4 separate regions of the Homo sapiens genome follow, and all the other regions are linked to region 1. Evidence: fine-mapped expression QTL. A gene starts in region 1. Each other region holds a variant in brackets. All regions are shown on one strand. Distances are from middle to middle.

Region 1 (2,738 bases):
AACCAGCCTGGCCAGCATGGTGAAACCCCGTCTCTACTAAAATGCAAAAATTAGCCGGGCATGCTGGCACGCGCCTGTAGTCCCAGCTACTTGGAAGGCTGAGGCAGGAAAATCGCTTGAACTCGGGAGGCGGAGGTTGTGGTGAGCCGAGATCACACCATTGCACGCCAGCCTGGGTGACAGAACGAGACTCCGTCTCACACACACACACACACGAAAGATGGGGCCTCACTATGTTGCCCAGGCTGGTCTCGTACTGCTAGGCTCAAGCGATCCTCCTGACCGGGCCTCCCATAGCGCTCGGATTACAGTGCGGGCCACTGTGCCCGGGCTACTTCTGCAGCTGAAGCACAGGTTCACTGACTCTTCCGAGAATACAGCTGGCATACACATTGCTGAAACAATACTTGTTCACTATGGAAAGCACATTCCCCTCCCAAAACAGTCCTTGGGGCCGAGTCCCCAAATGTGACCCAGCTGCGTTCTGCGGAGGAGGAGCGCGCCTGACACCTTATTACGTCCCCACAGCCAAATGCTCGTGAATTTATCGTCAGTCTATCTGGACACTACGTTCGTTTTTAATAGTTGCGCCTGTGAGCAGGCTGTGTGTGTGAATTTCGGGAGGAATTGGGGCGGCGGCACAGCTCGTCCACCATGAGTAGCGCGGGCGGCACGGGGGCTGCAGCCCAGAAGACCCCACCCAGGGCGCGCTGCGACCCCGGACGGGCTGGCTCCGGGCCCCCGGCCTCCCGCGTCCCCGCCGCCTACGAGGAGGAACGGGGTCCCCACCAGGCACTCCCCGGGCCGGGCAGAGGGCTCCACGCGCGGGCCAACCCGGCGTCCGGGAAGACGGCCCCTAGGGTGGGACGCCCCAGTTGTCGCCGCCACCCCGCCCCAGCTCCTCCCGCACGAGAACTCCGAGGATGCCGCGGGCGGGCCGACCGTACTTCCCGGAATGCCCCGCGCCCGCCGCCGCCGTCGAGGGGCGGGGCCTGCGTGTCGGCGGCGAGGGGCGGGGCCTGCGTGTCGGCGGCGAGGGGCGGGGCCTGCGTGTCGGCGGCGAGGGGCGGGGCCTGCGTGTCGGCGGCGAGGGGCGGGGCCGCGGCGCAGCGCGGGAAGTCCGGATCCCGCGGCGATCCGAGCATGAGCCTGGAGCGCGAGCTTCGCCGTAAGTTCCTCGGGGACCCCTTCCTCCGGGGGCGCGGAGGCTGGGGAGGGCTTGGGACTCGGCCCCGGCCCCGGACCCCGCCGCGGAGGCCCAGCCCTCCTCTTCCTCCCACAGAGCTGAGCAAGGCGAAAGCCAAGGCGCAGAGGGCCGGGCAGCGGCGCGAAGAGGCCGCGCTGTGCCACCAGCTGGGGGAGCTCCTGGCCGGCCATGGTGAGCGCCGGGACCAGGAGGCGGGAGGCAGGGCCGGGGCCCGGGCCCGGGCCGGGATCGGGGGCCGGGGGGCGACGGGCTCTTCCGGCAGACGCCGCCCCAGGGCCGCCCTCGCACCCGCGACGCCTGCCAGGCCGTGCTGTGCCCCCGCCTAGGCCGCTACGCCGAGGCTCTGGAGCAGCACTGGCAGGAGCTGCAGCTTCGGGAGCGCGCTGACGACCCTCTGGGCTGTGCCGTGGCCCACCGCAAGATCGGAGAGCGCCTGGCCGAGATGGAGGACTACCCGGCTGCCTTGCAGGTGCGGGCGCCCTCACTGGCCTCGTCCAGCCCGGTCGGCCTCTGGAGCCCTTTTCTGAGGAGGGAGGCCTGGTCTTCGCCGTCAGGAGCCTCGGGCTGGAGGGGACACCTGACCTGACGCAGCCTTGCCTTCACCGCCCCGGGCCAGTCCTCCGGTGGGGACCCCACAGCCTTTCCTGGGACTGGGGCAGGAGTAGGTTTCCTGGCACCAGAAACCATTACTGAACGTTATTTTAGCTGTGTTTGTGTTGGGGGAGGTCAGGCCCCATCCCAAAAGCTCTCCCTGACCCTGGCTGCTGGAGGCAGGACTGCAACCCCCCCGCCAACTCCCAGCTGCCCCTCCCCACGTGACAGCGTTGGCTGCATACAGCGTGAAGCCACTGTCACCACAGAGAGCCCTTGGCATGCAGAGGAGGGGCACGTGTCTGGCCTTGGCCTGCTCTGTGGGGGTTAGGGGGAGCAGGCTCTTTCCTTAGCAAGAACAGGGTCTCTGGGAATCTGGCGGTGCCGGTTTGCTTGAGGCGGAGTCGGCTCACAGCAGTGACTTCCTTCCACACTCAGCACCAGCACCAGTACCTGGAGCTGGCACATTCCCTGCGCAACCACACGGAGCTGCAGAGGGCCTGGGCCACCATCGGCCGCACCCACCTGGACATCTATGACCACTGCCAGTCGAGGGATGCTTTGCTGCAGGCACAGGCTGCCTTTGAGAAGAGCTTGGCTATTGTGGATGAGGAGCTGGAGGGTGGGCAGACCCCTCCGCGTTTTCTGCCTCCTGAACTTCGGGCCGAAGAGGCTGCAGCCCAGCACCCCCGCAGCCTCCTTGGGCAATCCCGTCTTCTGGAGCCCTCCCTTTGCAAGGCTCTTGTGTGAGGGGTGCATGCCCCGCTCAACCTTTCCCCTGGAGATCGTCAGCTCTTTATCCACTCTGTGCTCCATCTGCCGCAGGACACTTGCACCCACCTCGGGAGGAGGGAGGGGGTAGGAGAGGCGCTGCACAGGCCCCAAATGGGGCCCAAAGCTGGAAACCCCATGTGGGGAGGAAGTGGCTGAGTGTTTGGGG
Region 2 (2,738 bases), 21 kb after region 1:
CAGCTGGACTGCCCGCTGGCCATGGAGCGGATCAAGGAGGACCGGCCCATCACCATCAAGGACGACAAGGGCAACCTCAACCGCTGCATCGCAGACGTGGTCTCGGTGCGCCCCAGCCCCCAGGGCACGTGGTTAGGAGAGCCGAGGCTGCCTGCTGCAGCTGGGCACGAGCGTAGGGTCCTGGGCCTCCAGAGCTGAGCAGCACTCTGACTTGCTGGGCAGAAGGGAACCCCTTTAACTAGGAATGAGGGGTGGGCAGCATGCGGGGACGCCCCCAGGCCACCTGGACTCCTGTCGGGGGGATGAGCACAGGGTGCGTTCTGGCGGGGTCCTGGCCTCGGGAGAGAGTGTGGGTGTGGGCCCACCCTTCAGTTCCCACACAGCTGTCTGGGCAGCCAGGACCTCGTTCACCCAGGAGGCCTGCAGGGTTTGGGAACAGAGTACAGTGAGGAGGCCCAAGTGACAGCTGTGGCTGAGGAGGGGTTGGGGCCCGTGAGCCGTGGGGCCTCCCGCACCCGTGGACACGCGAGCCTCATGTGCACACCTGCCCCCAGCTCTTCATCACGGTCATGGACAAGCTGCGTCTGGAGATCCGCGCCATGGATGAGGTGCGGGTATTGGGCTGGCAGGGGGCCTAGGCAGGAGGGGATGGAGCCGGCGTCGGGGTCCCAGCCGCTGTGTGTGTCTCAGATCCAGCCCGACCTGCGAGAGCTGATGGAGACCATGCACCGCATGAGCCACCTCCCACCCGACTTTGAGGGCCGCCAGACGGTCAGCCAGTGGTGGGTGTCCCTCCCAGCCAGGCAGAGCCCCGCAGTGCCCGAGACCCTCCCAGCCAGGCGGAGCCCCGCAGTGCCCCTGAGGCCCTCAGCCCCCACATGCCCTGTGCTGCACTCCCAGGCTGCAGACCCTGAGCGGCATGTCGGCGTCAGATGAGCTGGACGACTCACAGGTGCGTCAGATGCTGTTCGACCTGGAGTCAGCCTACAACGCCTTCAACCGCTTCCTGCATGCCTGAGCCCGGGGCACTAGCCCTTGCACAGAAGGGCAGAGTCTGAGGCGATGGCTCCTGGTCCCCTGTCCGCCACACAGGCCGTGGTCATCCACACAACTCACTGTCTGCAGCTGCCTGTCTGGTGTCTGTCTTTGGTGTCAGAACTTTGGGGGCCGGGCCCCTCCCCACAATAAAGATGCTCTCCGACCTTCCTGCTTGGGTGGCTCCCCCAGGCCTGCCCTGTGTATTCTCTCCACCCTCCTGGGACTCTCAGCATAGAGCCCCTCTCGCCTACCCTCCCCCGACCTGTGTGGTGGCCCGGCCCTGGCTCTGTCCCTGCCACTGCATTCCTCATGGCCTGCATCACTCAGTGACGGCTGCTTCCCTGGTGGGCTCTGCCTGGGCACATAATAGGAGGCAGGGGCGTTTCCATAGCCCCGAGGCCTGGAGAACAGGTC[T/C]ACCACCTGGGCCAGGCGTGGCTTGACTCTGGCCACAGGGGAGGCTGCCTGCCACCCCTCCCCACGCCTCACTGAAGCCCAGGGCAGCACCAGGTCTTCTGAGTGCAGTCAGGTCCCAGCACACCAGGCCAGGCTGGGCTCAGAGGCGGGGTGCACTTCATGCTGTCAGCTGCTCCACACCCACCTCTCCACTCGGATGACTGCACCCTGGCCCAGGACTCCTGACTTATCTGCAGCTCCAGCCAATTACTCATTGGGTGGGAGTTTGTCATGCCCACCACCAGGGCCTCTCCCCAAGCCCCTGGGCAAAGCCCAAGAGTCAAGGCTGGGCCTGGTGGGGAGGCAGCGGGTGGTGGACGCCGTCCATTCCACAGCGTGTGCTGCACACCTGCTGCTGCCCCCAGGGAAAAGCAGCAGACCACACACCACACCTCTGGGTTCCAAGAGCCGCGTGCTTCACATCTTAGCAACTATGCCCTCAGGATAAGGGACGTGCCAGGGTGTCATTGTAGAATTTTTCTCTCTTAGCGACTGAGAATGCCAGAACCTCTTGACATCTGTGGCATCTAGAGCCGGTGGAATGAGGTGTGTAGAGAAAGGCAGATAGTGAAAATCAAGTCGCTTGGATTTCCGTGGGGGCTTGGGACATCATGGAGGCAGGTGGGCTCTGTGCACAGGCTGAGTGGGGACTGCCTCTCAGACGGCCAAGGGGGGCCGTCAAGCAGGATGACGATGTCAGTGGCTGGAGAGGGAGGCTGAGTCCCGCCAAGAAGCCGGAGGACTGGCCAGGGGCACTGCCATGGGAAGTGGGAAGAGACTGACCAAGGAGCCAGAGAAGAGCCCCCAGGACAGCAGGATCCAGGACACCCAAGGGAGTTGAGGAAGGGCACTGTCGGGTCGGGCCCTGGGGCTCGATGTCCTTGACAGGCACATGTGGGTACGGGGTGCTTCGAGGGAGGACCAGCACCCAGAAACGTGTGTGTGTCAAGGGGGGCAGGTGGCCAGGAAGGGTCATTTTGATCTTTTTTTTTTTTTTTGAGGAGTCGCTCTCTCTCGCCCAGGGTGAAGTGCAATGGCGCGATCTCGGCTCACTGCGACCTCCACCTCCCGGGTTCAAGTGATTCTCCTGTCTCAGCCTCCTGAGTAGCTGGGACTACAGGGGCACGCCACCATTCCCGGCTAATTTTGTATTTTTAGTAGAGATCGGGTTTCTCCATGTTTGGTCAGGCTGGTCTCCAACTCCCAACCTCAGGTGATCCGCCTGCCTTGGCCTCCCAAAGTACTGG
Region 3 (2,738 bases), 770 kb after region 1:
TTTTTTTTTTTTTTTTTTTTTTTTGAGACGGAGTCTTGCTCTGTCGCCCAGGCTGGAGTGCAGGGGCGCGATCTCGGCTCACTGCAAGCTCCGCCTCCCGGGTTCACGCCATTCTCCTGCCTCAGCCTCCTGAGTACCTGGGACTACAGGCGCCCGCCACCATGCCCAGCTAATTTTTTTTTTTTGTATTTTTAGTAGAGACGGGGTTTCACCGCGTTAGCCAGGATGGTCTCGATCTCCTGACCTCATGATCCGCCTGCCTCAGCCTCCCAAAAAGCTGGGATTACAGGCGTGAGCCACCGCGCTCGGCTGTGCTGAAGCATTCTGGTGAACTAGAGTAGTGATGAAACCTTTTACCATTTGAAGGAGTACAGGTAGTAAACAACGGATCAGTAAGCAGGTTCTTATTACTACTGTAATTTTTATTATAAGAGTTTTAAATCCTCTTAGCGCTGGGAACCATTTTCAAACATGGCCTCAGGATCAAATCCGTGCCACGCTTGTACAGGCACATGTGCCAGTTTCGTCATGTCTTTAACTGTATCTTCAACTACTTGCCCCGATCATGTATGTGCAGGCAGCAATTGGTAAGGTTCAATTTCCCACAGACTTCTCCTTCAGCTGCTAGCAAGTAGTCGAGAGTCAATTTATTTTGATAGATAGCATTTCTCATCTGAGTTTCTTGCCGGGCCAGAATAGTCAAGGCTCTGCCGGTCCTATTAGTGATTATTTCTAAGACAGCTTGTAACCGTATGATTTGGTTGAGCATGTAGATGGGGGTCCGGTATCCCCACAAGCCATCTTGTGCCCAAGTAGCAGGCCTATAATATTCCATCATTCTCTCAGGGGGCCATTTATTATCTTTCTTATTTTTTTATAGCTATGCTTCTCTTTTCGCGGGAAACATAGGGAAGCCCAGGAGTTCACCTGTCTTTATAGGCAGTAGGAAGAAAGATGGTTTAATAGTGCCAATCACACAACTGCCTGCCCACTGGTCGGGTAATTTGGTGTAAGGCCTATGCCCACACATTCAGTATAATCCAGTGGGGGCTGTCCAGTCTCGGTGGGACTCCGGATGGGTCCACACGGTTTGCAACTTTGGGAATTTACTAAATGGATTTTTCTTAGTATGGTTTGAACTCCACTAGGTGGCTGTTTTTGTAGTACCATTATACAGTTTTTGCCTAAGGCAGCTGAGTCGTCCTACAGGAAGGGTGAAGTCCTTCCTTACTCTTTTTTTTTTTTTTTTTTTTTTGAGACGGAGTCTTGCTCTGTCACCCAGGCTGGAGTGCAGTGGCGTGATCTCAGCTCACTACAAGCTCTGCCTCCCGGGTTCACGCCATTCTCCTGCCTCAGCCTCCCGAGCAGCTGGGACTACAGGCGCCCGCCACCACGCCTGGCTAATTTTTTATATTTTTAGTAGAGACGGGGTTTCACCGTGTTAGCCAGGATGGTCTCCATCTCCTGACCTTGTGATCCGCCCGCCTCGGCCTCCCAAAGTGCTGGGATTACAGGCGTGAGCCACCGC[G/A]CCCGGCCCCTTACTCTTGCTATACAGTATTGTCTAGTGATTGAGGCTTTTAGGACCCGGAAGTTATCAGGGTGATTTTTCTGAGCCAGGAATTCGTCAGGAACTGGGTCTGTAGGTACTAATTCTTGGGCTTCCCGTGGCCATTGGTCTTTTATTATAGTTCCTCCACACACATAGCATGAAGTGACATTGAGAGACTGGGCTACATGGTCAGCTAATTGCAAACAAATTTCTTATTTTTCCTGGAATTTCTGGTGCTGGCACATTCAGTTCATCATAGAAGGTTTGAAATACTGGCTCAGGAGAGCGTTTATAAACTTCTCCTCAAACCACAATATTTACTTGAAGATCCAGTCCAGCCCCATGAATTTCTAGGGTTATGGCCGGGCACGGTAGCTCACGCCTGTAATCCCAGCACTTTGGGAGGCAGAGGCGGGCGGATCACGAGGTCAGGAGATCGAGACCATCCTGGCTAACACGGTGAAACCCCATCTCTACTAAAAATACAAAAAATTAGCCGGGTGTGGTGGCGGGCACCTGTAGTCCCAGCTACTCAGGAGGCTGAGGCAGGAGAATGGCGTGAACCCGGGAGGCAGAGCTCGCAGTGAGCCGAGATCGCTCCACTGCACTCCAGCCTGGGTGACAGACCGAGACTCCATCTCAAAAAAAAAAAAAAATTCTAGGGTTACACATTTCCTTTTTTTCCAGCGAGGATTAAGGGGGTTGGTTATTACTAGTTCTAAGGGGTTACACTGACCACTGGTATAGGAAGGGCCACTTTTCCTTTTCTGAAGGTGGACAGAATTTTTTTCATTTTTTATCCAAGTAGCCTAAATGACACAAGACCAGTAACTACATTCATTTCCACACAGTCCTAACTCATGATAAATGTACTTATTTTCTGCCATACAGCCTCTTTCCTAATGAAGAGAACCACATCCTATTCCTAACTTATTAGTATTAATGACAGCACAGGCATCACACTTCAAGGTGACTTGTTTGGGCACCTCTTTTTGTTTGTTTTTTTTGGCTAACACTTTACTCATATTGTTTATGAGCCCCCACCAGTCTTTAATTCTTAATCTTATTTGAAAAACTGTGGTCATGGGAGGCTCAGATGGGTCATAACACACATCAGGTTGGTCATTTCCTGGGCACATACCTTGTATAGAATAACATTATACAAACAAGTTCTTTTTAGAGTTCCAGT
Region 4 (2,500 bases), 28 kb after region 1:
GAGGCAGGGACCTGGGAGCTCTCAGGCTCTGGGGGCATCTGTGCACCTCTGCCCTGTGTCCCCCAGCTTGGAGGCAGCCCCCAGATGGACAGCCAGAAGGGGACACCCCAGCCCTGCCCCACAGCTTGGGGGGCAGCAGGCAGAGGACAGAAGCCCACCCAGGCTGGCCTGGCGTGGTGAGCCACGCCGGTAATCCCAGCACTTTGGGAGGCCAAGGCGGGCGAATCACCTGAGGTTGGGAGTTCAAGACCAGCCTGACCAACATGGAGAAACACTGTCTCTACTAAAAATACAAAAGTAACCGGGCGTGGTGGCGCTGCCTGTAATCCCAGCTACTCGGGAGGCTGAGGCAGGAGAAGCACTTGAACCCGGGAGGCGGAGGTTGCCGTGAGCCAAGATCACGCCATTGCACTCCAGCCTGGGCAGCAAGAGCAAAACTCCAACTCGAAAAAAAAAAGACCACCGAGGCTGCCTGTCCAGGGGAAGGGGCCCAGCCCTCGACCCCCACAGGCAGTGGCTCCAGGCTGTTGGGGAGGATCTGCCACTGGAATGGTTAACCCAGGCATCTCCAGCAGCCAATCACAGAGCTCTGCAGGAATACCTGGGAGAGGTCCTCATGCAGCCCGGGCGGGTCCTAGCCCAGCCCCAGTCTGGCCCTGGACAACCCCAGCAAAGCCGCCCTCAGCCAGCCCAGAAGCACTGGGCCTTGGCCACAGCAACACCCACTGAGCACGCTGGGAGCTGAGTATGGCGTCCCTGGTCTCGCTGGAGCTGGGGCTGCTTCTGGCTGTGCTGGTGGTGACGGCGACGGCGTCCCCGCCTGCTGGTCTGCTGAGCCTGCTCACCTCTGGCCAGGGCGCTCTGGATCAAGAGGCTCTGGGCGGCCTGTTAAATACGCTGGCGGACCGTGTGCACTGCGCCAACGGGCCGTGTGGAAAGGTAACAGCCCCACCCGACGGGTCCCCCAGCCCTGGCCTCTTCCCGCCAGCTCCGCCCTGCCAGCCGGCAGCAAAGGGCCCTGGGCAAACTCCAGGAGGCGGAGGAGGCTAGTGGCAGTACCTGGGCACCCTGACCCTCCCCACAGGCCAGAGCCCACCCTCCTGCTCATGAGGGCAGACAGGCCTTTCCAGGGACACAGTCCCTCTTCTCCCCAGGACCCCAGGGCCAACTCCCCCTGCCGGCCCTCTGCCATCAAATTGGCAGTGGCTCCAGGGGAGTCCCCTGGGGATGGGGGACCACTGTTGGGGACCCCTCTGCGTGCACCCCTGTAGTTGGGGAAGCAGGACAGGGGCCTGGGGAGACGGAAGGGCGCCAGGGGTTGAGAGAGGATGGTGGACGTTGTTGGACTTGAAAGGG[A/C]AACAGGCCCTCGGGGAAGCCCCTGGCCAGGCCTGCCTCTCCCCTCCCTGGTGGGCCCAGCGCCCCTGCTCACTTGTCTCTGCCCACAGTGCCTGTCTGTGGAGGACGCCCTGGGCCTGGGCGAGCCTGAGGGGTCAGGGCTGCCCCCGGGCCCGGTCCTGGAGGCCAGGTACGTCGCCCGCCTCAGTGCCGCCGCCGTCCTGTACCTCAGCAACCCCGAGGGCACCTGTGAGGACGCTCGGGCTGGCCTCTGGGCCTCTCATGCAGACCACCTCCTGGCCCTGCTCGAGAGCCCCAAGGCCCTGACCCCGGGCCTGAGCTGGCTGCTGCAGAGGATGCAGGCCCGGGCTGCCGGCCAGACCCCCAAGATGGTGAGGGAGAGTCCAGGCAGACCAGGGGAGTGGGTGAGGAGGGTCCCACGGCCCATGGGACCCGGCCTGGCTGCAAAGCCTTCGGGGAGCCTGGGGGCCTGGGGAGACGCCCAGGAGTCGGCCTGCGGCTGGGGATTCACAACGTGGGGCTCACTACTGGGCAGTTGGGAGCCTGTAGGAGCCCCGGGAGGGACCTCATGAGGGAGGAACCCAGAGGCCTGAGTGGGAGCCTGAAGCAGCTGGGCCCGGCAGGGAGGGCTGTGGCTCCAGGGAGGGGCGGGGCTGGTGGGGGCAGATCCTGTAGTTGGGGTGGGAGATGCATCCAGGGGCAGCGGGGTGGATGGCAGAAGGTCACACCAAAGGCTGAGGCGGAGGCCCCCTCTTCCCCAGGCCTGCGTAGATATCCCTCAGCTGCTGGAGGAGGCGGTGGGGGCGGGGGCTCCGGGCAGTGCTGGCGGCGTCCTGGCTGCCCTGCTGGACCATGTCAGGAGCGGGTCTTGCTTCCACGCCTTGCCGAGCCCTCAGTACTTCGTGGACTTTGTGTTCCAGCAGCACAGCAGCGAGGTCCCTATGACGCTGGCCGGTGAGGCCTGGGCTGGGCTGTGGAGGGGGGCACCCCCGAGTCCCCAGCCTCCACGTCCCTGGGGGGCAGGGCCGGAGCCCACACAGACTCGCGGTGCCAACTCTTCTCCCTGCCAGAGCTGTCAGCCTTGATGCAGCGCCTGGGGGTGGGCAGGGAGGCCCACAGTGACCACAGTCATCGGCACAGGGGA

Direction of the effects. Positions count from the first base shown, and alleles are read on the strand shown. Sizes are in standard deviations (SD) of each study's normalised expression. Not every link is listed here.
With allele C in place of A in region 4, the expression in unexposed skin of the gene that starts at base 1,118 in region 1 is higher (small effect, 0.25 SD a copy in GTEx).

Evidence for each region.
Region 2: its variant is fine-mapped to the expression of TONSL in whole blood (TOPMed, PIP above 0.99).
Region 3: its variant is fine-mapped to the expression of TONSL in unexposed skin (GTEx, PIP above 0.99).
Region 4: its variant is fine-mapped to the expression of TONSL in unexposed skin (GTEx, PIP 0.91).

Annotation. Positions count from the first base shown.
Region 1 is chr8:144,442,820-144,445,557 of GRCh38, reverse strand. It overlaps TONSL (tonsoku like, DNA repair protein), which reads left to right and starts at 1,118. Exons shown (of 26, transcript NM_013432.5): 1 at 1,118-1,168; 2 at 1,283-1,378; 3 at 1,534-1,676; 4 at 2,237-2,420. The coding sequence starts at 1,144. RefSeq lists silencers at 523-662, 703-1,472 and an enhancer at 1,718-2,226.
Region 2 is chr8:144,422,085-144,424,822 of GRCh38, reverse strand. VPS28 (VPS28 subunit of ESCRT-I) reads left to right here. Exons shown (of 10, transcript NM_016208.4): 7 at 4-105; 8 at 555-608; 9 at 691-782; 10 at 901-1,206. The coding sequence ends at 1,018. Among named protein-coding and RNA genes, the nearest start is that of VPS28, 5.1 kb to the left of the region's middle. RefSeq lists enhancers at 1,272-2,041, 2,042-2,738. The variant T/C (reference allele first, on the strand shown) is at 1,453.
Region 3 is chr8:143,677,074-143,679,811 of GRCh38, reverse strand. No RefSeq gene overlaps it. Among named protein-coding and RNA genes, the nearest start is that of ZNF707, 6.0 kb to the left of the region's middle. The variant G/A (reference allele first, on the strand shown) is at 1,529.
Region 4 is chr8:144,415,037-144,417,536 of GRCh38, reverse strand. It overlaps SLC39A4 (solute carrier family 39 member 4), which reads left to right and starts at 693. Exons shown (of 12, transcript NM_130849.4): 1 at 693-939; 2 at 1,446-1,727; 3 at 2,118-2,310; 4 at 2,427-2,500. The coding sequence starts at 748. LOC124902041 (a long non-coding RNA gene) reads right to left here. Exons shown (of 2, transcript XR_007061145.1): 2 at 1-2,500. The variant A/C (reference allele first, on the strand shown) is at 1,357.